Regions from separate parts of the Homo sapiens genome. Here regions 2 and 3 are each linked to region 1. The links come from fine-mapping of genetic effects on gene expression. A gene starts in region 1. Each other region holds a variant in brackets. All regions are shown on one strand. Distances are from middle to middle.

Region 1 (8,177 bases):
TCCCAGCTACTCATGAGGCTGAAGCAAATAATCGCTTGAACCTGGGAGGCGGAGGTTGCAATAAGCCGAGATTGTGCCACTACACTCCAGCCTGGGCAACAGAGCGAGACTCTGTCTCTAAAAAAAAAAAAAAAAAAAAAAAAAAGCCAGGTGTGATCATGCATGCCTGTGGTCCCAGCTCCTCGAGAGGCTGAAGTAGGAGAATTGCTTGAGCCCAGGAGGTCAAGGGTGCAGTGAGCTGTGATTGTGCCACTGCACTCCATCCTGGGTGACAGAGCCAGACCCTGTCTAAAACAAAACAAAAAAACAATAAAACACATAAGCTACCAAATTCTGTAAAGAAGGAAGTACCACCTGCATTCTTGGATTAATGAAGAAACAAACAGCTGCCAGTGATATAGGCTCATCCGATGAGTATACCCAAGCAGAGGAAAAAATGGCCTCCACCTTCAACCCCAGAAATGGGCAAACACAAGTGTCCATGCTGCTTGCACCCTCAGAGAAAGCCCTGGAGATGGTGATGTCAACCACAAGCTAGAGTGGGACAGTCTCTGCCTTATTCAGTTCCATTCAGTGTTAGAACAAGTCATACTAGCAGAGGCTGTTCTATCTGCCTTTCTTCTCCTACCCTCATCACCAAATCCCAGATGATTGAGAGTTCCAGAAACGAGCCTGTCAGAAATGCAATTTTTCTTTTTCTTTTTTTTTTTTTTTGAGACAATGTCTTGCTCTGTCACCCAGGGTGGAGTACAGAGGCGCCATCTCAGCTCACTGCAACCTCCACCTCCTCGGTTCAAGTGATTCTCCTGCCTCAGCCTCCTGAGTAGCTGAGACTACAGCTGTGCACCACCATGCCTGGCTAATTTTTTTTTTTTTTGTATTTTTAATAGAGACGGGGGACCGAGCGCAGTGGCTAACGCCTGTAATCCCAACACTTTGGGAGGCTGAGGTGGGTGGATCACGAGGTCAGGAGATCGAGACCATCCTGGCTAACACAGTGAAACCCTGTCTCTACTAAAAATACAAAAAATTAGCTGGGCATGGGGATGGGCCCCTGTAGTCCCAGCTACTCAGGAGGCTGAGGCAGGAGAATGGCGTGAACCCGGAAAGTGGAGCTTGCAGTGAGCAGAGATGGTGCCACTGCACTCCAGCCTGAGTGACAGAGCGAGACTTCATCTCAAAACAAAAACAAAAACAAAAAAACAGAGATGGGGTTTCACCGTGTTGGCCAGGCTGGTCTCCAACTCCTGACCTCAGACGATCCGCCCACCTCTGCCTCCCAAAGTGCTGGGATTGCAGGCGTAAGCCACCTCACCCCAGCCGCAAATGCAATTTCTGCAACAACCTTTATATCAACTTTTTTTCCTCTAACAATGAACAATGAAAACAATTTGTGCTCCATCTTTAAAAATGTGTGACACAAAAATTTTTTAAATAAAAATAAATATGTGATAAACATTCCTGAATGCCTAGTGTGTGCCCTGGCGCTGTGCTCTGCATTTAATTTGGATCAGCAGTTCTCAGCCTTGTTTGTACATTACAACCAACTGGAGAGGTTTTTAAACTCCCAGTATCCGGGGCATCAGTATTCGTCTAGGGCACAGTGATTCTAACACACAGTCAAGGTTGAGAACCACTTATTTAATTCATCCTGTAAATCCTCACAATAGAATCCTGCAAGGTAGCTTTTATCACCACCTTTGCCGATGAAATTGAGGCTCAAAGAGGTAAATTGATTTCGGCATCTGTAGCCCCAACCTGTGACCTCTCCTTCCTTCCTTCTCGGGCTCCCTTCAGGGATTTCCTGATGTTACAGAAAATGGTATGTATGACGCTGCCCTCCTGGCCACCTTGACATAGCTCTGCTCCCAACAGGGCTCTTCTGAGATAGCAGCCAGACACTACCTGGGATCAGGACTGATACTAAATGACTTCTGCCAAAATGAGGACAACTGAGGCCAGTCACTTCCAAACAGGTTCTGTCACCCTGAGTCAGAATAATGGCAGCTACCTCTCCTCCTCACCGCCCAGTCGTTTCTAAGCCTGGCTCGTCGCCGTTGCTGCTCCGCCAAGCCTTTCCTCGGTGCCCTCTCTCTTTTAGAACAAATTACTTCATCTCCAGGCCCTTCTCAGGGCAGCTTCTTTGCAGGGGCCATAGGGCGTCGGAAAGGTCTTTGGTCCAGGAAAGCCGCGAGCCACAGATCCAAGAGGAAAAAGCCGTTCCCGGCCCGGGCCTTGCCCAAGGCACGAGAGTAAATGCACCTTCCGCGTGCCTCGGCGCACCTGGGCTCACCTGTCCCCTCCCGCAGTGCCTGCAGACAGGGAGGGAGCGCGGCTGGGCCAGAAGGCTGATCACCGCCTGCCCCCTGCTGGCCAGTGTCAGTATTGAGCCCGCTGCCGCTCGACCAGAACGTCCCAGGGATGGAATGAAGGTGCGGGCATTTATGGAGCGCCTGCTGTTTGTCAGGCGAGGTACTGATAAGCGCTGGAGTGTAAGGATGTACGTGACCTGCTCTCAGAGTTCAAATTTAAATGAAGAGATATACATTAATCAAGTAGTCATTCAAGCAAATATGAAATTACAACTGTGGGCTATGCGAACAGATGACGCGAGGGGCCTGTCCAGTCTGGGAGATACGGGTGGGTTCAGGAAAAGCTGCCCCCAGGAGGGGACGTTTGAGCGCCAGGAGCCGCGCAAAGTCATTTCATGTCATCTCTAAAATCCTGCAAGGCGGCTTTCCCCCTTGACAAAACAGGAAATGGGATCAAATTGAGGAAGGAATTCACCCAAGATCACACAGCAAGCTGGAAGCAAATCTGGGAGGAGCTAGGTCCGCCCCGTTCCGAAATCCACACTTTTCTGGAGGTGGGGCAGGCGGTGGCACAGGGACTTGGGGCGGGGTCTGGTGGGCGGGGCATGAAGTCTGGCCCCGCCCCCGCCTCCGAGGCCAAAGGGCGCCCTGGGCGGGGATCGGAGCAGGGGCGGGGTCTTTCCAGGGAGTGGAGCCTGGGCAGATTGGGGCCTGTGGAGGCCGCACTAGGATCGTAGAAGGAGTGGAGCCGTGCTCTCACCCTGTCTTAGAGGACCCGGAAGCGCCAAGTGACTGAGGGCCGAAGACACTCACCTGTGGAGCCTGTGCACGTAGGTAGAGGCGGCGGCTCTGAGTCCAGGAGCTCCAGTGGGCAGCTCCCCAGGTAGGGCCCAACTCGGGGGGAGAAGAGATGACCCTCTCCCCTCCCGCCCTGCCCATCTGTCCTGCCATCCTACATTCCTTCCTTCCTGTCCGCGGGCCTGGGTCCACCCCTAGCTGTAAGATGGGGACGCAGGGGTGGAGGGACTGGCCTCATTTTGTCCCTTTTTCCCTGGCCCAGCGGCTGCAGGCCCCCTGGACACCCAGAACGTAGAGTCTGGAGAGGAGACGTCGAAACCTCCCAGGGGAGGCTGGCCCAGCTTTACCCCAGCCTGACTGTGTGACCTTGAGGAGGACAGCCACTTTCTCTGGTACCCAGTGTCCTCAGTTGCAAAACAGTGACTGGCCCTTGCCCTGCTTGCCCTGAGACTGGGCAGATCAGATGCTGTAGCTGCTGGGGGCTGGGGTGGCGCTTTCTCTCTACTGGGGCACTAGGAGTGCTTACTCTCCTGCTCCCTCTGGTCCTCGGTGGAGAGCCACACCCTTCATCCACCCAAACCTGGGAGCCCCGAGGGCTGAGAGCCTAGTCCTAGGGCAGCTTGCTCTGGCTTCCCTGTGCTAGAGTTGTAGTCTAGCCTGGAAGGCCTGTGAACATCCCCAAGGTGGGGTGTGAGGCCTACGTGGAGTGCACATGCTCGTTTTGCAAATAGTGGTGCCACCATTGTGCATGGCCTTGAGTGCCAAGTTAAGAAGTCCAAACTCCGCTGGGCGCGGTGGCTCACGCCTGTAATCCCAGCACTTTGGAGACTGAGGCGGGTGGATCATGAGGTCAGGAGATCGAGACCATCCTAACACGGTGAAACCCCGTCTCCACTAAAAATACAAAAAATTAGCCGGGTGTGGTGGCACACGCCTGTAGTCCCAGCTACTCGGGAGGCTGAGGCAGGAGAATTGCTTGAACCCAGCAGGCGGAGCTTGCAGTGAGCCAAAATCATGCCACCGCACTCCAGTCTGGGTGACAGGGCAAGACTCCATCTCAAAAAAATAAATAAATAAAAGAAGTCCAAACTCTCAACTGCTGGCAGGGGCAGTTCATCAGAGTATGACCTGCAGTGCCCACAGGACCAGCCTGCATGAGTGGGGCTGTCATGATGCTGCTGCTGATAGGTGTACATACAGGTTTTTATTGCATTCCAGGGCTTTACACAAAGTCATTAGTTACTCACACGTGCCTGATGTTATTCCCATTTTGGAGGCTGAGACTGAGGGTCAGAGAGATGAAGTCACTTGCCCATGGTCACAGCTAGCAAATGGCGGAGTGGGGATCAGCACCCAGATAATCTGGTGCCTTTTCTCCTAATGTCCTGTGGCCACCCGTGATCTGGGCATCTGGTTATAAAGTCTTAACCTAGGACAGCTGGAGAAAGGAGGGGCTGGATGAGCAGGAAATTGGGGGAGAAGATTCAGAGGGCTAGGGAGGGAGAGAGGGGTAGTGACTAGTCCTAAGGGGTATTCGGCTTCCTGGGAAGGTGTGAGGAGTGAAGTGGCTGATTTTAGACATGTTAGTTTGTGGGTGGAGGGTGATAGAGGGGAGCCAAGCAGAGCTCTCCTCTGTCTGGAAAAGAACAAGGAGGTAGAGCTGGGTCCTGGGAAAAGGGGGTGCCTAAGGGATAGGTGAAGACAGAGGCGGGCTCACAGAAGGCCCCCAAAATGCTGAGCAGGCAGATGTGGGGGGGCTCACTGGAAGCCCCCAAAATGCTGAGCAGGCAGATGTGGGGGGCTCACAGAAGGCCCCCAAAATGCCGAGCAGGCAGATGTGGGGGACATCCATTGGTGAAGTGGGGGGAACAGAGAGAGGAGAGAATTCTGGACTCCCGTGACATTAGATCTGAGGGAGATGGGTCTAAAAAACTGAGGCCTTGGTTCACAGAAGGGGAAACTGAGGCCAGCCAGTTACTTGCCTGAGAATACTCCAGGGCTGGATCCGAGTAGGACCCCGGGTGCCATCTCTGCTATTCGGCCCTTTCTACTAGATCGTGGTTCTCAGCTGGGGGCAATTTTGTCCCCCAGGAGACATTTAAAAATGTCTGAAGACAATTTGGCTGTCACAACCTGGAGCTGCGGGGGATGAAGTGCTACTGGCATCTAATGGGCAGAGACCAGGGATGCTGCTGAATATCCTACAGTGCACCCACCCACCCCCCAGCAAAGAATTATCTGGCCCCAAAGGACAGTAATGCTGAAGCTGAGAAACTGCACTAGGGCTTAATAGGGCAGAAAGCTCAGGCTTGGGCCTCCAGCTGGATGGACCTTTGCCCCAACCCCGGCTCTGCCCCTCCCCATGCTTGCTCCTTAATTCCTGGAAGCCTCTGGAGTCCTCTCTGCTTTTCCTGGGCACAGTGGTTTAGAGGTCTGCCCACCAAGTGTCTGTCACCACTCTGTCTCCCCAGACCTGTATTCAGAGTTTGGCATTAGGTAGGGAGAAACCAAAGTGGAAATGTCCCATCTAGCACATGGCAGGTGCCTTGCAGATAAACTTGATTTGAGTGACATCTTAGGGGTCCAGGGAGTTTCATTTCATCCCATTTTCACTTTGGCAATTTGAATTGTGTCTTATGTTTGTGACGCTCTGACATAGACTGAAAGAATCCACTGCTTCATCCGATGTCCTAGGATGGGCAGGATGTGGCATTATCTGAGAAATGCTGTGGAGGTGGGGGTCTTGTCGTTTAGGCTCTTCCAAGAGTAGACTGTGGACTGGGAACACAAAAGCAGTTCCTTTCAAACACATGAAAGGCTGCAGGAATCACCTCGGGATCCTGTTAAAATGCAGATGCTAGGCCAGGTGCAATGGCTCACGCCTGTAGTCCCGGCACTTTGGTAGGCCAAGGTGGGAGGATCACTTGAGTCCAGGAGTTTGAGACCAACGTGGGCAACATAGTGAGACCCTGTCTCTACAAAAGAAATTTAAAAGTTAGCCAGTTATGGTGGTACATGCCTGTAGTCCCAGCTACTCAGGAGGCTGAGGCAGGAGGATCACTAGAGCCTGGGAGGTTGAGGCCGCAGTGAGTCATTTTGGTGCCACTGCACACCAGCCTGGGTAACAGAGTGAGATCCTGTCTCAAAAAAAAAAAAGAAAAGAAAAGAAAAGAAAAATATGCAGATGCTGATTCAGTAGGGCTGAGTTGGGCCTAAGTTTCTGTTTCTAACAAGCTCCCAGGTGATGCTGATGCTGATGTTTGTTGCTGGTGCATACCACATTTTGAGTGCAGGGCATTGCAGGGCTGTGCAGAAGTGGCCATGGGCCATGCAACCAACTCTTGGGTGGTTTGGAAGCATGGAGTGGAAGGAGACCATGCTCTAGAGTCAGGAGAGCTGGATATGAGTCTTTACTCCCTCTCTCCCCTCCCTATACCCCTTCTATGGCCTGTCAGCTTAGAAGAGCTTGAATAGTTTCCTCACCTGTAAAGTCACTTAACCTTGGGTAAGTCACTTAGCTTCTTTGCTAAGTGGTCTTGCATGGCAGGCTGTCCTCCAGGGGTTCTGACCCAGGGTCTGAGAGAAGAAAGTGCTCTGTAGAGATAGGACAGTCTGGGTCTTGGCAGGCAGAGGGGCAGCAGGCCACTGGCCTGGCCAGGAGGGCAGGGGTGATCACCTGAAGCTGCTGGGGCAGGCACTGTGCCAGCTTGGAGGAGGCTCTCATCATAGCCCTGTTTTTTCTCTGAGGCCGCCTCAGCCTCCTGCTTTGGGCTTACCCAGGCCTGTCTGGTGTGGGAAAGCTGGAGAGACCGGTCTGGCTGGGGGAGGGAGCAGCTTCAGTGGGCTGAGGCCAGCCCAAGGCCTGATTGTGGGTCTGAGCGCCTAGCCAGCTCAGCCCTGGTCTGAGGAGCTGGGGTTAGGGTTGAAATTGGGGTCTGAGAACTATAGCCTGGACACCGCTGGGGTCAGGCTGTGCATGGACAGGCTTCCCACCAGGGAAACTGGGAAGGAATTTGTAGTTTGGGGCCTTAAGCCCCCAGCTATAGGGGATGCTCTGCCTTGAGCATCTGACCCCAGGAATGGGGCTGAACAGAGCCTTGAGTACCTGGGGTGCTCCCACCCTTGGTCCCCCATAAGTCAGCTACAATCGCCCAGCAAGACACCTTCCAACTCACAGGACCAGCAGATAGCAAGACAGCTGAGCCCATTTCTCAGATGGAAAAGTGGAGGCTCCTTCGTTCCCACTTCTTGGGAAAAGAAGAGTACTCATTAGCACAGTCACCCATTATCCAGCAGGGCCCTGGGCCTGCTATCTAATGAGGCTGCCCCCTCTTCCCACCCCCTCCGTTTTCACAGTTGGACCATCCCAGTGGAACCACACAAACCTGGGTTCAGATCTCAGGTTCCCTCCTTCATAGTTATGAGGCTCTGGGCAGGTCACTCCACCTCTCTGAGCCTCTGCTGGCTCATCTGTAAACAGGAATAATGACACCCGCTCAGCCAGCCCCACAGGGTTGTTGTGAAGATGAAATGAGCCGTACCCACGGAACACTGTGGTCATTATCATTAGTCATGGCATTTAGAGGCACGAGGCAACTGGGTATTGTTTTACCTTGTGCCCTATTTTACAGATGTGGACATCGGCACTTGGGGAAGGAGGCGGCTGCCCAAGGGTCCCTTAGCAGGGCAGTGGGCAAGCTGGGGTTAGACCCACATCTACAGGTGTACCTCCCATCGCACAGCTGCTGCCATCTGTGCAAAGGCACTCCAAGGCGTGACACAAATGTAAACTTGGGGGTCTGTGTGGTCAGGCTGCAGGAGCTTCTTGTGGAGGAGCTGGAGCAGACCTTTGTGCAAGCCACTGCCTTTCTTTGCCAGCACCAGCCATGAACTACGTGGGGCAGCTGGCGGAGACGGTGTTTGGGACGGTGAAGGAGCTGTACCGGGGCCTGAACCCAGCCACACTGAGCGGCGGCATTGACGTGCTGGTGGTGAAGCAGGTGGACGGCTCGTTCCGGTGCTCACCCTTCCACGTGCGTTTTGGCAAGCTGGGCGTCCTGCGGTCGC
Region 2 (8,177 bases), 300 kb before region 1:
GTTGAGTCTTTACCTAATTGAATCAGCAGAGCCTACACTGATGTCTTCCAGTTACAAAGCGGTCACTGTAAAGTAAAAGGTGTCTTCATATCTAGGTTTGGGCTGAGAAGGATCCAATTGTATATCTAGTTCCTACTTTTCTTTTTTTTTTTTTTTTGAGATGGAGTCTCACTCTGTTACCCAGGCTGGAGTGCAGTGGCGCAATCTCGGCTCACTGCAAGCTCCGCCTCCCAGGTTCACGCCATTCTCCTGCCTTAGCCTCCTAAGTTGCTGGGACTACAGGCGCCCGCCACCACGCCTGGCTAATTTTTTGTATTTTTAGTAGATACAGGGTTTCACCGTGTTAGCCAGGATGGTCTCGATCTCCTGACCTCGTGATCCACCAGCCTCGGCCTCCCAAAGTGCTGGGATTACATGCATGAGCCACCGCGCCAAGCCTAATTCCTACTTTTCTAAGAATGTTTACAGCAAAGTGGTCATTGCCAAAGGAACTTGTAGCAGTACAGAAGATGGGCTCAGAAATGAAAGAAGTCTATTGATGTGACTAATTTCTCAACCATTTAATAGAATTATGGATTTTCTATTAAAAATAACTTGACCCTTTTCGATGCATTTAATAAAATGCCAAGTTCATTATTTGTTAATTTTTTAAAACCACAAAATTCAATATGTCTTGTGTCAGCATATTTTTTCAAAGGCCACTATTTTACTTCTCCCCCAAAACGTTTTTAAATTAAACAGAGAACTCTCAAAGCACCTGAGAATTACTTCAGTTTTTCATTTATTCAAATAGTTGCTTAAAGTGACCAACTTGGTTTTCTTTGAAATAGTAATTCTTGGGAATAAGAATACCTTAAATAATATAATAAAGCTTATGTGTGAGAATTTAGTACCAAATGCCGTGTTAACAGTTATGCGTGAGTATAGGCATTTGGGAGATTCCATGAAAAAATTTGATAAAGTCAGTAGAAATTTCAGTAATGGCTCATAAGTCTAGCTAATGCTGAATATTGAATTGCCTTGAATTTGTTTTTTTGGAAGTGTTACTTAAAGGAAATAAACAAAAGTCATTTAAGGATGTGTTCACTAGTGTTCATTAGGTTTAAGCCAAATGGATCTTAGTAGAGATCTTACGCCATTCAGCAAAAGGATTATCACAGAAGCATCACAACAGGCGCAGACTTAAATTCAATTAAAAGTAGGCAGGAGGACATAATTTTGTTGTATAGAAATTATGGAATAGGGCCTAATTTTAAAGAGTCTTCAAAGATAAACATATCAGGAAAAATATAGCTCATAAAATATGGGGAAAAAAATCTGGGAAGATGAGTATTTGTTAATGCTCTGTAGCTCCATTGCCCTCAGTATACAAGGAATGTGCCCACAATAGGGTTGGATTTAAAAGTCTTCAAAGCTTTGGTCTCTTTTTCTTTCGTTTTCCTCTGATACAGAATGCGAATAGTCTCCCGGCCTCCAACCCCCTCTACATCCCCACCACCCCATAATAGAGACTTAAAGGGAATTTAAATTCGAGTTCTTGAGCTTCTGCTCAATGGCTAGGTCTTTGAACAAGTTAATATCAGAGCCTTAGTTCTTCACCTATAAAGTAGGTTTAATACTTACCTTACAACATTGAGGATTAAAGAGCATGAGAGGATTACTTTATGAAAGGTGAAGCTTAGAACAGAATTTTTAGTTCCTTGCCAATGCTAAAAAACAACAACAACAACACCTTTTTCAGAAATTGCTTTATTAGGCTTTTGTACAAAGGGAACATCTTTACTTTCTTTAAATTTGCACATATATCTATTGTGAAATTTTAACCAAGCTGGAGGGGTCACTAGGGAGCATTGAGTATGATACTATTGCTGTAAATCATAGAAAGGCTGGCTCAGGAGGGTACTGACTTGCTTTGACTTTGCGGCAACTTCAGTTGTCCAGTGACAAGGCTTGCTGCATACACACCACTTTGTTTGTTTCTCATACCTTAAATTGTGGATTAAAAATCTTTGGGGCAGGCCTGGAGGCTCATGCCTATAATCCCAGCACTTTGGGAGGCCGAGATGGGCAGATCACTTGAGCCCAGGAGTTCAAGATCAGCCTGGGCAACATGGGAAAAACCTGTCTCAACAAAAAAAATACAAAAATTAGCCAGGTGTGTTGGTGCATGCCTGTAGTCCCAGCTACTTAGAAGGCTGAGGTGGAAGGATTGCTTAAGCCCCGGGAGGTGGAGGTTGCAGTGAGCCGTGAGCATGCCACTGTACCTACCCCGTTTTGGGCAACAGAGTGAGACCCTGTCTCAAAAAAAAAAAAAAATCATCATCATCTTTGGCAGTGATTAACTTTCTCCTTTCACACTTGGGATGGTGCAATATTTGGCATCTACTTAGGAAGCTAAAATTTTCACGTTTAATTGTAAATGGAAAAGTTTAAGTTGCCATATTCATTCATACAAACATTCAGAAAGTGAATATTGTGACTAGACACAGATGAACAAGACAAACCCACATGCCTATCAGGATGAACTTTGAAATTAGTACGTTGTAGGTATATACAGTCACTTCCTCTGTTGAGATTTTTCATTAGGCCTCAGTACAAAGGCTGCTGTCATACAACATGAATGGGGACTGGAGGTACTTTCTGGCAGTTAATATTTCACTATCAGTGCAAGAGAGTGACGTCTCCATTTAGTCCTAATCGTGAGTTTTTCCCCCCTTAAAGAAATTGGAGACCTAGGACCTTGGATTTCCAAAGATTTCCAAACTCTTATTTCTTAAAATGTTACAAAAAATGGTTTTTTTTTGTATACCTATATACCCATTAAACTTTTTTGCCTGAAATAGGCAAAAAGATTTAAGTTCTGTGTATTTATTTCCTGTTATCTTTTTGTATCAGACATCCATGTTGCATGAATTTTAGAAAAATAGTTTTCAGCTGGGCTTGGTAATGGCTCATGCCTGTAATTCCACCATTTTAGGAGGCCGAGGCGGGCGGATCACGAGGTCAGGAGATCGAGACCATCCTGGCTAACACGGCGAAACCCCGTCTCTACTAAAAATACAAAAAACTAGCCGGGCGTGGTGGCGGGCGCCTGTAGTCCAGCTACTTGGGAGGCTGAGGCAGGAGAATGGCATGAACCCAGGAGGCGGAGCTTGCAGTGAGCCGAGATTGCGCCACTGCACTCCAGCCTGGGCGTCAGAGCGAGACTCCATCTCAAAAAAAAAAGAAAAATAGTTTTCACATTTCCTGAGCAGGTAGGTTGTCGGAATGGCTAGAGATGGTCACATTCTGTGTGAGAAATCATGTGACAATAGCTAATTCAAGTATTTGAAATAATTTAAATCCTTGAACTGAATTGATTGAAATAAAGTATTTAAAATCACCATCTTCACATATTTGAAGAACTAAAATCTTAGAGAATAAACTCTACTTAAAGTCCTGGGAAACTAATTTTATGAAACTATTGAAATATTATTGCCCCTTCCTAATCCATGAAGTATCTTGATATGGGTAATACATAAAAGCTGTTAAAGCTCTTCAGAGAAAGATGCAGAGTACATAGTGGTATTACTTACAGTGGTTTGAATACTAGAAAAGTGATCGGGACAAAATGTTAGACTTACTGTGCCTTAATCATACAGTCAGTGCATTTTTGCAGGAATGGATGCAATGTAAGTAGTTCTTACTATTTAATACCAGAAATGAAGAAACAGTAGCTTCTTAGGAATTGATTGTGGCTCAGGATCTATTTCTTAATTTTTAATGCTTCCACTTAACCAGGAGAGGAAAGGGAGGAGAAGGAACACAAATTTGTTAGTCTTTATAACTACTGGCTTGTTACACTTGATTTCCAAACCACAAGTGCTCCAGGGCCAGGCACCCCACACTGAGAAGTCCCTAAGAAGTGCATTTATTGGAAATTTGATTTTTAAAAAAAACCTCATCTCTACTAAAAATACAAAAGATTAGCTGGGCCTGGTGGCGCATGCCTGTAGTCCTAGATACTCAGGAGGCTGAAGCAGGAGAATCACTTGAACCTGGGAGGCAGAGGTTGCAATGAGCCGAGATGGCACCACTGCACTTCAGCCTGGGAGACAGCGAGGCATCGTCTCAAAAAAAAAAAAAAAAAAAAAGACCATGTTAGGTTCTGTTTAAGTAGTATTTCTTATACCCTGGAATGAATGAATGCCTCTTAGTCTTTAGAATTTCATAAGGTTTAGCTAGGTATACTCAATACTTCTCCATTTTACTACATATTTTTAGGAAGGCACTAGGTATTGTGAACTCCTTGAGAGTTCTAAACATCTCAGAGCCTGTTTGAGTATTGATGGCATAGTCACAGATACTCCATTTCCTTTCTAGGGAAGTCTGCCTGCATTACCACGTAACCCCAAGCCAGAAGTGTAACCACTTTTCTCTGACTTGCATTGAGCTTTTGTTATCCTCTTTTAATATTTCATTCTGTAGTAGTCTGTATTTATGTGTTTTCCTTATTAAGAAGTGGCCAGCACTTTGGGAGGCCAAAGTGGGTGAATTGCTTTAGCCCAGGAGTTCTAAAGCAGCCTGGGCAACATGTCGGGACCCCGTCTCTACAAAAAAATAACAAAAATTAGCCAAGCATGGTGGTGTGCACCTACAGTCCCAGCTACTTGGGAGGCTGAGGAAGGAGGATCAGTTGAGCCTAGGAGGTTGAGGCTGCAGGGAGCCATGTTTGCCCTACTGTGCCCCAGAACGAGACCCTGTCT[C/CAA]AAAAAAAAAAAAAAAAAAAAAATTAAGAGCACTGTTTCATCCTGTATGGTCAATACAGATGCTTTTACCAAATGTTTCAGTTGTGAAGTGCAAACTCCTTTCTCCCCCCAGCTGGTTGAAGATCAAGTGGGAGACTTTTGAGAGCTTAACAGTAAGTTTTCCTTGTTTTTCTCAAGCTGATATGCCTAAAAGTCACCTGGGGATGATTGGTGAAAATACATATTCCTACTCGTACACCTTGAAGTTGATTCTATAGTGGAAGGTACTGAAAATCTGCATTTTTAATGTATCTTCAACAATCCCAAATGATTCTGACTAATGCAGGTGACCCATAACCTCCTTTGGAGAAGTTGATCTATCTGAACTTTACTATCTTATTTGGCTAAAGATCTATATTTTGCTTCATTCAATTACGATACTCCACAGGTTAAGGTATAAAGCTTACAGGGTGATGATGATGATGATGATGATTATTATTATTATTATTTGGAGACAGAGTCTCCCTTTGTCGCCCAGGCTGGGGTGCAGTGACACGATCTGGGCTTGCTGCAACCCCCACCTCCTGGGTTCAAGCGATTCTCCTGCCTCATCCTCCTGAGTACCTGGGATTACAGGCACACCACCACCACACCTGGCTAATTTTTGTATTTTTAGTGGAGACGGAGTTTTGCCATGTTGGCCACGATGGTCCCAAACTTCTGGCCTCAAGTGATCCGGCTGCCTCAGCCTCCCAAAGTGCTTAGATTACAGTAGTGAGCCACCGTGCCCAGCCAAGATTACAGGATATTTTTAAAGGACCAGAACAGTATTTTTTAATATATGTTTATAAAAGCTTGATACTTCACTCTAAGTTATAGTTTCTACCTTTCAGTGAGCATTTACCAAATAGCAGATATAGTTAACTGCCTTTGCAGCTGTTTTACTGTGTGTCAGAATCCTAATCCTTTCTCCTACTTCAGTGTTTAACAAGCCATTTAATTCTGATGTTACTTTTTCGGATTGGGTGACAAGCAGAGCACAATGAGCAGGGTTTGTTTTCATACTAATACTAGGATGGTTAAATCAGGACTTTAGAAAGTAAGTGGAATAATTTAGTGGAATACTGAAAATCCAGTCTGTGGAGCTCACTGCCTTTAGATTAAATTAGTTGGGGACTTCAGCTCCTGATGGTACTGATTGAAATGGAAGCATTTGAATAAAGCAGTATAGTTGACGCTTGAACAACACGAGGGTTAGGGATGCTGACTCCTATGCAGTCAAAAATTCGAGTTATAACTTTTGACTCCTCGAAAACTTAACTAATAGCCTACTGTTGACCAGAAGCCTTACTGATAACAGAAACAGTCAATTAACACACATTTTGTATGTTATATGTATTATATACTATGATCTCACAATAAAGTAAGCTAGAGAAAAGGAAATATTAAGAAAATTGTAAGGAAGAGAAAATATATTTACCATTTATTAAGTGAAAATGGATCATCATAAAAGCCTTCATCCTCATTGTCTTGTTGAGTAGGCTGAGGGGGAAGAGGAGAGTTTGGTCTTGCTGTCTCAGGAGTAGCAGAGGAGAAAGAAAACCCTCATGTAAGTGGACTCAAGCATTTCAAACACATATTGTTCAGGTGTCATCTGTGGTTCTCAATGTGTGGTTTCCTGATCAGCAGAACTGCATTGTTTGAAAACTTGTTGGACATGCAGATTCTCGGGCCTCACCCATACCTACTGACTCTTAAACTCTGGGAGTAGGGTCTTAGCCATTTGGGTTTTAATGAGTGTCTACCAGGTGATCAGATGTGCACTGAAGTTTCAGAACCAATAGAATAGAGCAAGATACCAGTTTTGTAGTAATTCAACCTCTTAAGCAGTATTCCTTGTTCTTTCACAAGGAACCATGTATGGAGTTCATTACTTGTGCTTTCTTACAGTTGTGAAGTTGGAGTAATTCATAATCGGGGGAGGATCTTCTGGAGTATAAAAAAATTTAAGGAGCAGTTATATGATTAACACCAGAAAGGTTTCTTGTATTTCTACTGAATATATGCCACTTCAGTAGGAGAGGTGTGTTCAGTCTTATTCTTTCTACAGCTAGTGGCCCAGAGAATGGCCTGCGCATTTCAAGCCCTGTCAATGAGAATTGTCTAGACAAAGAAGGTCCCTTGGTTGAATTAGTAATAGGATACATGAAACAATGTGTCAGCACACTTAAAGTCTTTATGGCCAGACAAAGTATGGTCTTAGTGTGTTTGGAGGCCCCTGACCATTGGAAACAAAGGCAGTTTAGGCTGAGCTGTGGATCCGCACGTAGGCCAGAGGTTTGTAGTCACTCTCACTCTTCCCAGGCATTAAGCGTTCCTTAATGGAAGCAAAGGAGGACAAGCCTACAGGAATGGGCCTGCCCTAATTGAGCTGGCCTGAGAAGATACATTTTCAGGTTAGACAAGTCCTTTTTCCCTTTTAAGTTCTGCCTCTTGGGAAAGAAGATGCATTTGTAGTGCAGGGATGTCCTTGTGAAAATGTGACTTGTTATAGAGCAGTATTTGAAATGCAAGTGCCCAGCCGGGCGTGGTGGCTCACGCCTGTAATCCCAGCACTTTGGGAGGCCGAGGCAGGCGGATCACCTGAGGTCGGGAGTTTGAGACCAGCCTGACCAACATGGAGAAACCCCATCTCTACTAAAAATACAAAATTAGCCAGGCGTGGTGGCAGACACCTGTAATCCCAGCTACTCGGGAGGCTGAGGCAGGAGAATCGCTTGAACCCTGGAGGCGGAGGTTGCAGTGAGCCAAGATCATGCCATTGCACTCCAGCAGGGCAACAAGAGCAAAACTCCTTCTCAAAAAAAAGAAAAAAAGAAATGCAATTGCCCATCTTAAGGGTCTTGTACTAGTTAATTACTTTCAGAGATAAGTAAAAAAATTCCAGTGTTGTCTTCTATTAAGAGAGCAAAGGTAGTTAGTAAAAATGGGATTTGTTTGCCCTGCTCCCGAAGCTTAAAATAATTGCTCTATCTCAGTTTTGTCTTATGCTTCGGCAGACTAATAACTTCAGTTGAAATGTTTTCTGGGCAGGTGTTCATTGAGGGCCTGATTCTCCAGAGGTTCTGTGCAGAAGCAGGCTGCTTTGAGATAGCCAGCTTAGCCAGGCCTGGGAACCACACAGAATAGTGCAGTACCATGTAGGGAAAAGTCCTTGACTGGGCTGCAATAGGCAGAGTGGAGAGTGCTAGGAAGCAGAGTATTTTCCTGGATAATTTCATCCAGTAGAACTTTTTGTCATGATGGAAATGTCCTATATTTGTGCTGTCCAATATGGTAGCTATTAGCCATATGAGGTGTGTCTGTGTGTGTGTGAGTGAGAGAGAGAGAGAGAGACAAGAGTCTTGCTCTGTCATTCAGGCTGGAGTGCAGTGGCGCGATCTCAGCTTACTG
Region 3 (8,177 bases), 170 kb before region 1:
ACCATGAACAACCCTCTTTCCCACTACTGGATCTCCTCCTCGCACAACACGTGAGTGTGGCTCCTTCAGGCCCACCCAGCTTCTTCCCCAGGAGGGCCCATCTGACCATACCTACCTGCCTCTCCTTGCCTATCCAGGTACCTGACCGGGGACCAGTTCTCCAGTGAGTCCTCCTTGGAAGCCTATGCTCGCTGCCTGCGGATGGGCTGTCGCTGCATTGAGTGTGCGTGGGGTCCAGGGCTGGGGGAGGGAAGATGGGAGGCCTGCCCGCTTGACCATGGTGATGTTGCTCCCCAGTGGACTGCTGGGACGGCCCGGATGGGATGCCAGTTATTTACCATGGGCACACCCTTACCACCAAGATCAAGTTCTCAGATGTCCTGCACACCATCAAGGAGCATGCCTTTGTGGCCTCAGAGTGAGTCGGAGGCTGGATGACCCAGGGGTTAACTTGGCTCCAGGTCTCTCGTTCTAGAGGGACAGAGGGCAGAAAGACTCCTCAAATGCCCTGTCCCCTCTCCCTCAGCCTTTCATCTTTGTCCTTCCTCTTGGCCTCTCCTCGTCACCTGCTCCCTGCTTGAGCTGTTGCTTCCCAAGTTACACTTTCTGTTTCCTACGTGTTGGGCCCACTCTCTTCTTCATGGGTCCTTTAGACTGTAGAACACATGCTCTTCTCATCTTCAGAAAACATGCCCTGGTTTCTTTAGGCCAGTGTCCTGCCAACTCCTTTGCCCTCACAGCCCAGAAGATTGTCTCTGTTCCCTGTGTCCCATTCCTTCAATTCTGTTTACTGCTTAAACTGTGGTCACTGGTCTCCCTTAGCTCACCAGGGCTCTAACAGCTAACTTTGGAGGCTTCTCCTCTCTCCTGGCCTCTTTGGTGTGAAACATTTTTCTTGCACTGCTGAGCAGCCTCCATAATTGGGCCAGCTCGGGACTGCATCAGTTGCCACCCTTTGGTTTCCACTGCTGCCACAGCTGTAGAACCCCTCTCTGCCCCACCAGTGGCTATGGCCTGCCTCTTTTCTGGGATAGTTTTTACAGACAAGAAGCCCCCAGGCCCTTGGCTTCCAACAGCTCACTGTGAGGGGCTACTTAGACCCAGAGAATTGCAGAATCTGTTTCACTGTGCTTGTCCCCCATCCCGCAGGTACCCAGTCATCCTGTCCATTGAGGACCACTGCAGCATTGCCCAGCAGAGAAACATGGCCCAATACTTCAAGAAGGTGCTGGGGGACACACTCCTCACCAAGCCCGTGGAGATCTCTGCCGACGGGCTCCCCTCACCCAACCAGCTTAAGAGGAAGATCCTCATCAAGGTGGGGTGGCGGGCTTATTGCGGAAGCCCCACACTTCTCAGTGCCTTGCCCAGGCCATGGCTTCAGCTGTTGGGCCTAAACCTGGGTGAGGAGGTGGGGTGAGGACTGGGGTCTGCATTGCCCTGTTCTGGTTGCCCCTACAGCACAAGAAGCTGGCTGAGGGCAGTGCCTACGAGGAGGTGCCTACATCCATGATGTACTCTGAGAACGACATCAGCAACTCTATCAAGAATGGCATCCTCTACCTGGAGGACCCTGTGAACCACGTGAGGACTGGGCCAGGCTGGGGGTGGTAGGCCAGTGGGTGTGAGGACCCTGGCTCACAAGTCCCTCTTTGGTCTGTTCCAGGAATGGTATCCCCACTACTTTGTTCTGACCAGCAGCAAGATCTACTACTCTGAGGAGACCAGCAGTGACCAGGGCAACGAGGATGAGGAGGAGCCCAAGGAGGTGAGGAACCAGCTCAGGTCTGGGGGCTGGGCCAGGTCAGGCCTGGGCCAGGGTCACAGTATCTTTGCTGTTGCCTTCCCCTGACAGGTCAGCAGCAGCACAGAGCTGCACTCCAATGAGAAGTGGTTCCATGGGAAGCTAGGGGCAGGGCGTGACGGGCGTCACATCGCTGAGCGCCTGCTTACTGAGTACTGCATCGAGACCGGAGCCCCTGACGGCTCCTTCCTCGTGCGAGAGAGTGAGACCTTCGTGGGCGACTACACGCTCTCTTTCTGGTAACACTTCCCATGCAGATGCGTATGTTCAGTCAGCGTGTGTACACAGACATCACATCACCCAGAGATAATCAGTTAACATTTGAGCCTTTGATCCAGGACAATAATTAGGCTTTACATGGAACATAATTTCACCTACATACACACACACACTCTCTGTCTCACCCCCCCCCCATACCCCTCCCTTTTCGGTTCATTTGAAGCCCACACCTTTGGTTCATGTGACTGCCCACACCTGAGCTCCTCAGGAGATTGGCCTCCCTCCTTGAGGCTCCCTCCTTGAGTTCCACCCTCATTTGGGGTGGAACTTGGTCTTTGGGGCCCTGGCCTGTTTTCCCCAGCCTCCCTCACTCTGTGTCTTCCACAGGCGGAACGGGAAAGTCCAGCACTGCCGTATCCACTCCCGGCAAGATGCTGGGACCCCCAAGTTCTTCTTGACAGACAACCTCGTCTTTGACTCCCTCTATGACCTCATCACGCACTACCAGCAGGTGCCCCTGCGCTGTAATGAGTTTGAGATGCGACTTTCAGAGCCTGTCCCACAGACCAACGCCCACGAGAGCAAAGAGTGAGGGAAGGGCCTGGGGGCGGACAAGGCAGGGCAGGGCCATGGGTGGTGCTGGCCGGGCCTGACTCTGCCTGTTCTCAGGTGGTACCACGCGAGCCTGACCAGAGCACAGGCTGAGCACATGCTAATGCGCGTCCCTCGTGATGGGGCCTTCCTGGTGCGGAAGCGGAATGAACCCAACTCATATGCCATCTCTTTCCGGTGAGGGGTGTGGCACTGGGTTGTGGGGCCTTGCTTGGGTCTGAGCTGCCCTGACCCTGTGTGACTGTTTTGTCCTTGTGAAGGGCTGAGGGCAAGATCAAGCATTGCCGTGTCCAGCAAGAGGGCCAGACAGTGATGCTAGGGAACTCGGAGTTCGACAGCCTTGTTGACCTCATCAGCTACTATGAGAAACACCCGCTATACCGCAAGATGAAGCTGCGCTATCCCATCAACGAGGAGGCACTGGAGAAGATTGGCACAGCTGTGAGGGGGCTGTGGTAGACGGGGCATGGCAGGGGAGGCAGGAGAGACCCAGAATCTTACCAGTCTCTGGATGTGTGTAACAGCAAGACCTGGTGTGTTGTAGAAGTTCGTGGGAGGGCCCCTGACTCCAGCTGGGAGCCACAGTGTGGGTACCAGGAGGGTGTCTGCAGGAGGGGACATCTGAGCAGCATCTTTAAGGATGGGGACAGGCACATAAGCAGAGGGTTCCTCATGAGTCAAGATGTGGAGTGAGGAGGTTCTGGGGCTCACACTGGGAGAGGTGCACACAGTGGAAACTCATCCACCTGGGCTTGGCCTGGACTCTGTCCTAGGGCAGATGAGATGAGGCTACCCAAGAGTGGTTGTGGAGCCTCCGCCTGGTGGATGGTATGGAGGGCAGAGCCACAGGAGGTGAGACCAGTGAGGGAAAAAGTCAGGACCCATGGCAGCACAGCTGGTGATAAGGGCCCTGGACAGAAGGAAGGGGTCTAGGACCAGAAGATCAGTTGAGAGACTGCTGTCGTCAGTAGACAGGGCTGGCTGGGGAGAGAGAGGCCTGTTGTCCACTGGCACCTGGGACTCAAGTGATGGAGAGGAGCGGCAGGAGGAATGTGGGGAGTGGGAAGGCTTTTCCTGACTTTGGGCTCAGCAGTGAACCAACAAGCCACTGAACTAAAGCACTGAATATGGGTAGTCTGTGAAGGGCCCACCTGCACATAGCTCAGAAATACTTGGGAGTTTGGGCATTTAGGACCTGAGAGATTTTAGAATCCTGGGCTGGGCCTTACATGTAAGAATGTGAAGAAAGGAAAGGGAACAGTGAGGCCGGGCCTGAGGCCTCTGAAGCCGTCTCTACTGAGGTCGAAGGATCCCTGTGGATCAGGTGCAAGTTTGCTGCACTGGGGGAAAGGGAAGCTGCTCCAGAAACCAGTAGCTGCTTTCTACCTCTGGGCTCTGGGGCATTAACATATCCCATTGTGTCCTGTTTCCAGGAGCCTGACTACGGGGCCCTGTATGAGGGACGCAACCCTGGCTTCTATGTAGAGGCAAACCCTATGCCAACTTTCAAGGTACAGCTCAGGCCTCTGGGCATAGGAAGCTGGGGAGGGTCCCCAGCTGCTTGGGGCTTCATTTCTGTGTTCTGGGCCATCTGTGGTCTTTGTGGAGAAGTGGTGGTTGTGGTTTTCCGAGGCCCAAGAGGTTGTGAGAGATG[T/C]GTGGTTGGTGAGCGACCGCAGGTCTCCCAGGGCCGACCCACTCCCTAGCCCCTACCCCTTAAGTCAGCAGTGACCCTTTAAACTGCTCCTGTGGGTGACCCCTGTTTCCTTCCTGGGCAGCAGCGGGGTAGGAGCTGGGAGGCACACTGGCCACTCATTCCCCGGCCTCATGGAGCCCTGTTACACAGGTTCTTTTTTGTTTTGCCTTTTTCTCTAAAAAGGCCTGGGCCCTATTTCTCACCCCCTCCCCTCCACAGCCAGGGGACCTGGAAGGAAGTTTTTCTTTCCACTTCACAGATGAGTGGTAGGGTCCCATCCAGGCCCCATATGCTTCCAGGTCCCGGGGAGGCACTCAGGGCCACTGCAGACCCTGCCTTCTTGGCCTGCCAGCCCTGACTCCTGGGAGCGGATTCAAGGTTCTCCCTGTGGCCCAGGGTGGGGCTTAAGGTTCCACCTGGGTCCCGAGGTATTTCACTGGCAGAGGCCCTGCCTCTCTGATCATATCTGTCCTGGAGCTTCCCTGCAGGGCAGTAACAAGAACTATAACTAGGGCCTGTTGATGGCAGTGTCATCTCCCACTGGCCTGACCCCAGGCAGGGAAGCCCAAGCACATGTGTGTGTGCACATGAAGCCCCAGGTTGGCAGTGGCAGGGAGAGCCTTTCTGCTCTGACTGGTGCTTCTCACCTCTGCAGTGTGCAGTCAAAGCCCTCTTTGACTACAAGGCCCAGAGGGAGGACGAGCTGACCTTCATCAAGAGCGCCATCATCCAGAATGTGGAGAAGCAAGAGGGAGGCTGGTAAGCCAGTGGTGTGGTAGGCCCAGAGTCCAAGGGCCCCAGTGGAGCTGGGGCCCCAAAGACATGCATTTGTGATGTGCTTGTCTCCTGTGTGCACCAGCAGTGCCTGCCTCACCCTGGCTTAGGCATGGGAACCCCTACCAAAGGATACCCTCCTCATGGGAGTTCGGGGTGGTTGCTGGAGGTCAGCACCCTGTGGCTCCCACAGGTGGCGAGGGGACTACGGAGGGAAGAAGCAGCTGTGGTTCCCATCAAACTACGTGGAAGAGATGGTCAACCCCGTGGCCCTGGAGCCGGAGAGGGAGGTAAGACCAGAACCACCTGAGTAACAGCATTCCCTATTCCCAGATTCTCCTTGGCATGCCCCCATCACACAGTCCCAAGCACGCACGTGCATGCACAGACACCTGTCACATGGGCTGGTCGCACAGCCCATGTGGCCATGCACGTAGTCTCCCATATACCTGTGCTACATTTGGCAGTCACAGGTACACCCACAAGATGTATTTGTCCCATGCACACGGATATCCCCTCACACACATATGCAGTAGCCATGCTGACCATTGGTGGGCTTTGCTTCCCACAGCACTTGGACGAGAACAGCCCCCTAGGGGACTTGCTGCGGGGGGTCTTGGATGTGCCGGCTTGTCAGATTGGTGAGCTCCCATCTGTTTCTCTTGCCCACTGTTCCCTAGGGTGAGATTCTTCTTTGTATCTCTTTCCTGCTCCTAGGGAGGAAGCTGATGGCTGAACCCCAAAGTCTGCCCTCACTCCAAGCTCTCCCCATGCTCTGGACATCCCCTTGACACCCTGGGCTCCCTTTGTCACTGTCAGCTTTGACCCCTGCATGTTTACCTATGCCAGGCACTGGGGAACCCGTCAGAATCAGCAGAACAAAGTTGATGCTGCTGGTTGGCTGACATCCCCAGGCCTAATGGGTTGTACCACAGGGATGTGACAGAGGCTTGGAGATGGGGTGGAGAGGGAGACACGGCCTGAGGAAGAAGCATGAGTCAGAGCTGAGTTGGAACACTGGCTCCACCACAACCAGCAGTGACTTGTTTGAGTTGTAGCGTCGTCATCTGTCAAATGGGCCAGCAGAGTAGTCCTTCCCCTCATGGGGTGTGGGAAGGAGGAAATGGGATGAGATAGAACTCATTTGAGCCAGTGCCTGCGGTGTGGAGTGGGGTGGAGGGGGTGAGATGTCTATTCCCAGCTGTTATCTGCTCTCGCCCTCCCAGCCATCCGTCCTGAGGGCAAGAACAACCGGCTCTTCGTCTTCTCCATCAGCATGGCGTCGGTGGCCCACTGGTCCCTGGATGTTGCTGCCGACTCACAGGAGGAGCTGCAGGACTGGGTGAAAAAGATCCGTGAAGTGGCCCAGACAGCAGACGCCAGGGTGAGATTCTGCTGGAACCTTCTGGGGGGCAGTGTGTGGGCCCGTCAGGCAGCTGAGGCCTCCAGCTCCCAGCACAGGCCCCCTCAGAGCAGTGGGGCAGCCGATGGCCTATGCTAGATAGGCCACAGCCCCTGCCTTAGCTAGGGATTGAGAAGAAACAGACACATAAGATGCAATGTGGTGTGTTTAGGTTGTGTTGAGTTTGAGATACTGATGGGTCGTTGAAGTGGGTCTGCTTAGTGGGCAATTGGATACACAAGACCAGAGGTAAGAGGAGAAGTCCTGGGCTGGAAGCAGGAGTGGAGTGGGGGCTGAGGCATAGAAGGGATGAGGTGGTGTCGCATAGGAAGAGAACTTGGGATGGATTGAGAAGCTCCATATGAGAAGGCATGGGCGAGGAAAGGAGCCCAGGAAAGGCAGGTCAGACAGACTGCAGGCCACTGGTGAGGGAGAGGGTCTGCTGTGTTGAGAGCTACAGAGGTAAAGACAGGAACGATAAGAACTTGCAAGTGCCCTTTGGATTCAGCAGCAGCTAATAGCCCTTGTGAGACTTTTGAGCTGCATCAGCAGCATGGCTGGCATTAGATGGCAGTGGGCAGCAGGGAGTCTGGAATGGCAAAAGCAGAGCCTTTGTAGGGCCTGTCCTTGAGGGAGAGAACAGGTGACTGGGGTTTGAGCAGGCTCTCATGCAGATGGCTGAAAGGAGCGAGCAGCGTGTGGGAGGAGATGGAGCCCAAGCTTAGCTGGTAGGACCAGCCTTCTGGAGAAGGTGGCCTCTTCCCCTGAGCCTGGGGGAACAGAGAAGTATTCTCAAGGGTTAGGGAATTCCTACTTGGTGGCCCTTTCACCAAGTGCATTTGGTAGATGGGTCTGTAGCTGCTTTGGAGAGGGCACCCGCAAGCCAAATAGAGAAGGGATAGGGTGCTTGCCAGGCTGTCCCCTAGAAGGAAAAGGTGCTGGCATACCAGGTGGTTGAAGGACTGGATCTGGGGGTCTAGGCTGAAAAGGGAAGAGTCTGAATGTAAGAGCCACTGAGGCCGGGCGTGGTGGCTCACGCCTGTAATCCCAGCACTTTGGGAGGCCGAGATGGGCAGATCACTTGAGGTCAGGACTTCGAGACCAGCCTGGCCAATATGGTGAAACCCTGTCTCTACTGAAAATACAAAAATTAGCCGGGCATGTTGGCCGGCACCTGTAATCCCAGCTACTCGGGAGGCTGAGGCAGGAGAATCGCTTGAACCCGTGAGGTGGAGATTGCAGTGAGCCGAGATCACGCCACTGAACTCCAGCCTGGGCGACAGAGCAAGACTCTGTCTCAAAAAAAAAAAAAAAAAAAAAAAGCCACTGAAAGAAAGTCCTCCAGGAGAGGATGGGTTGGGGTGCTTGTAAGTGGGCTTCTGTAGAGATTTGGCATGGAGATTTGCCATGAAGAGTGGGTGGTTATATTTGAGTTGGGGGCGCTGAGGCAGTGAGGATCATCCTTAGGACACAGATGGAAACCAAGCCAGGGGCCTGTATCCCCAGTGCAGTCACAGGTAACACAGAAGAATCATTTTTACCCCAGCATGAGGCTGGGTAATAAATGGTCAGAAAGTGTCATTTGGGAGTGTGGCCAATTCCAGGATCCCTGGAAGGTCACTGGGAACATGGGTGGTGATGAGGAGTCTGTATCCCCCACCCCCCCTAAGAGG

Alleles and levels. Positions count from the first base shown, and alleles are read on the strand shown. Sizes are in standard deviations (SD) of each study's normalised expression. Not every link is listed here.
With allele C in place of CAA in region 2, the expression in Th1/17 cells of the gene that starts at base 3,014 in region 1 is lower (large effect, 0.94 SD a copy in Schmiedel 2018).

Evidence for each region. PIP is the estimated chance that this variant, and not a neighbour inherited with it, causes the effect.
Region 2: its variant is fine-mapped to the expression of LPIN3 in Th1/17 cells (Schmiedel 2018, PIP 0.95).
Region 3: its variant is fine-mapped to the expression of LPIN3 in whole blood (TOPMed, PIP above 0.99).

Annotation. Positions count from the first base shown.
Region 1 is chr20:41,337,808-41,345,984 of GRCh38, forward strand. LPIN3 (lipin 3) reads left to right here and starts at 3,014. Exons shown (of 20, transcript NM_022896.3): 1 at 3,014-3,195; 2 at 7,989-8,177. The coding sequence starts at 7,997. RefSeq lists an enhancer at 2,626-2,675 and a silencer at 2,836-2,995.
Region 2 is chr20:41,036,692-41,044,868 of GRCh38, forward strand. All of the region lies in intron 2 of TOP1 (DNA topoisomerase I), which reads left to right. Among named protein-coding and RNA genes, the nearest start is that of TOP1, 12 kb to the left of the region's middle. The variant C/CAA (reference allele first, on the strand shown) is at 4,746.
Region 3 is chr20:41,163,784-41,171,960 of GRCh38, forward strand. It overlaps PLCG1 (phospholipase C gamma 1), which reads left to right. Exons shown (of 32, transcript NM_002660.3): 10 at 1-50; 11 at 138-223; 12 at 298-418; 13 at 1,150-1,318; 14 at 1,462-1,584; 15 at 1,667-1,768; 16 at 1,856-2,043; 17 at 2,411-2,611; 18 at 2,693-2,812; 19 at 2,896-3,076; 20 at 4,069-4,146; 21 at 4,984-5,087; 22 at 5,296-5,392; 23 at 5,674-5,743; 1 more. MIR6871 (microRNA 6871) reads left to right here and starts at 5,240; the gene lies at 5,240-5,295. The variant T/C (reference allele first, on the strand shown) is at 4,290.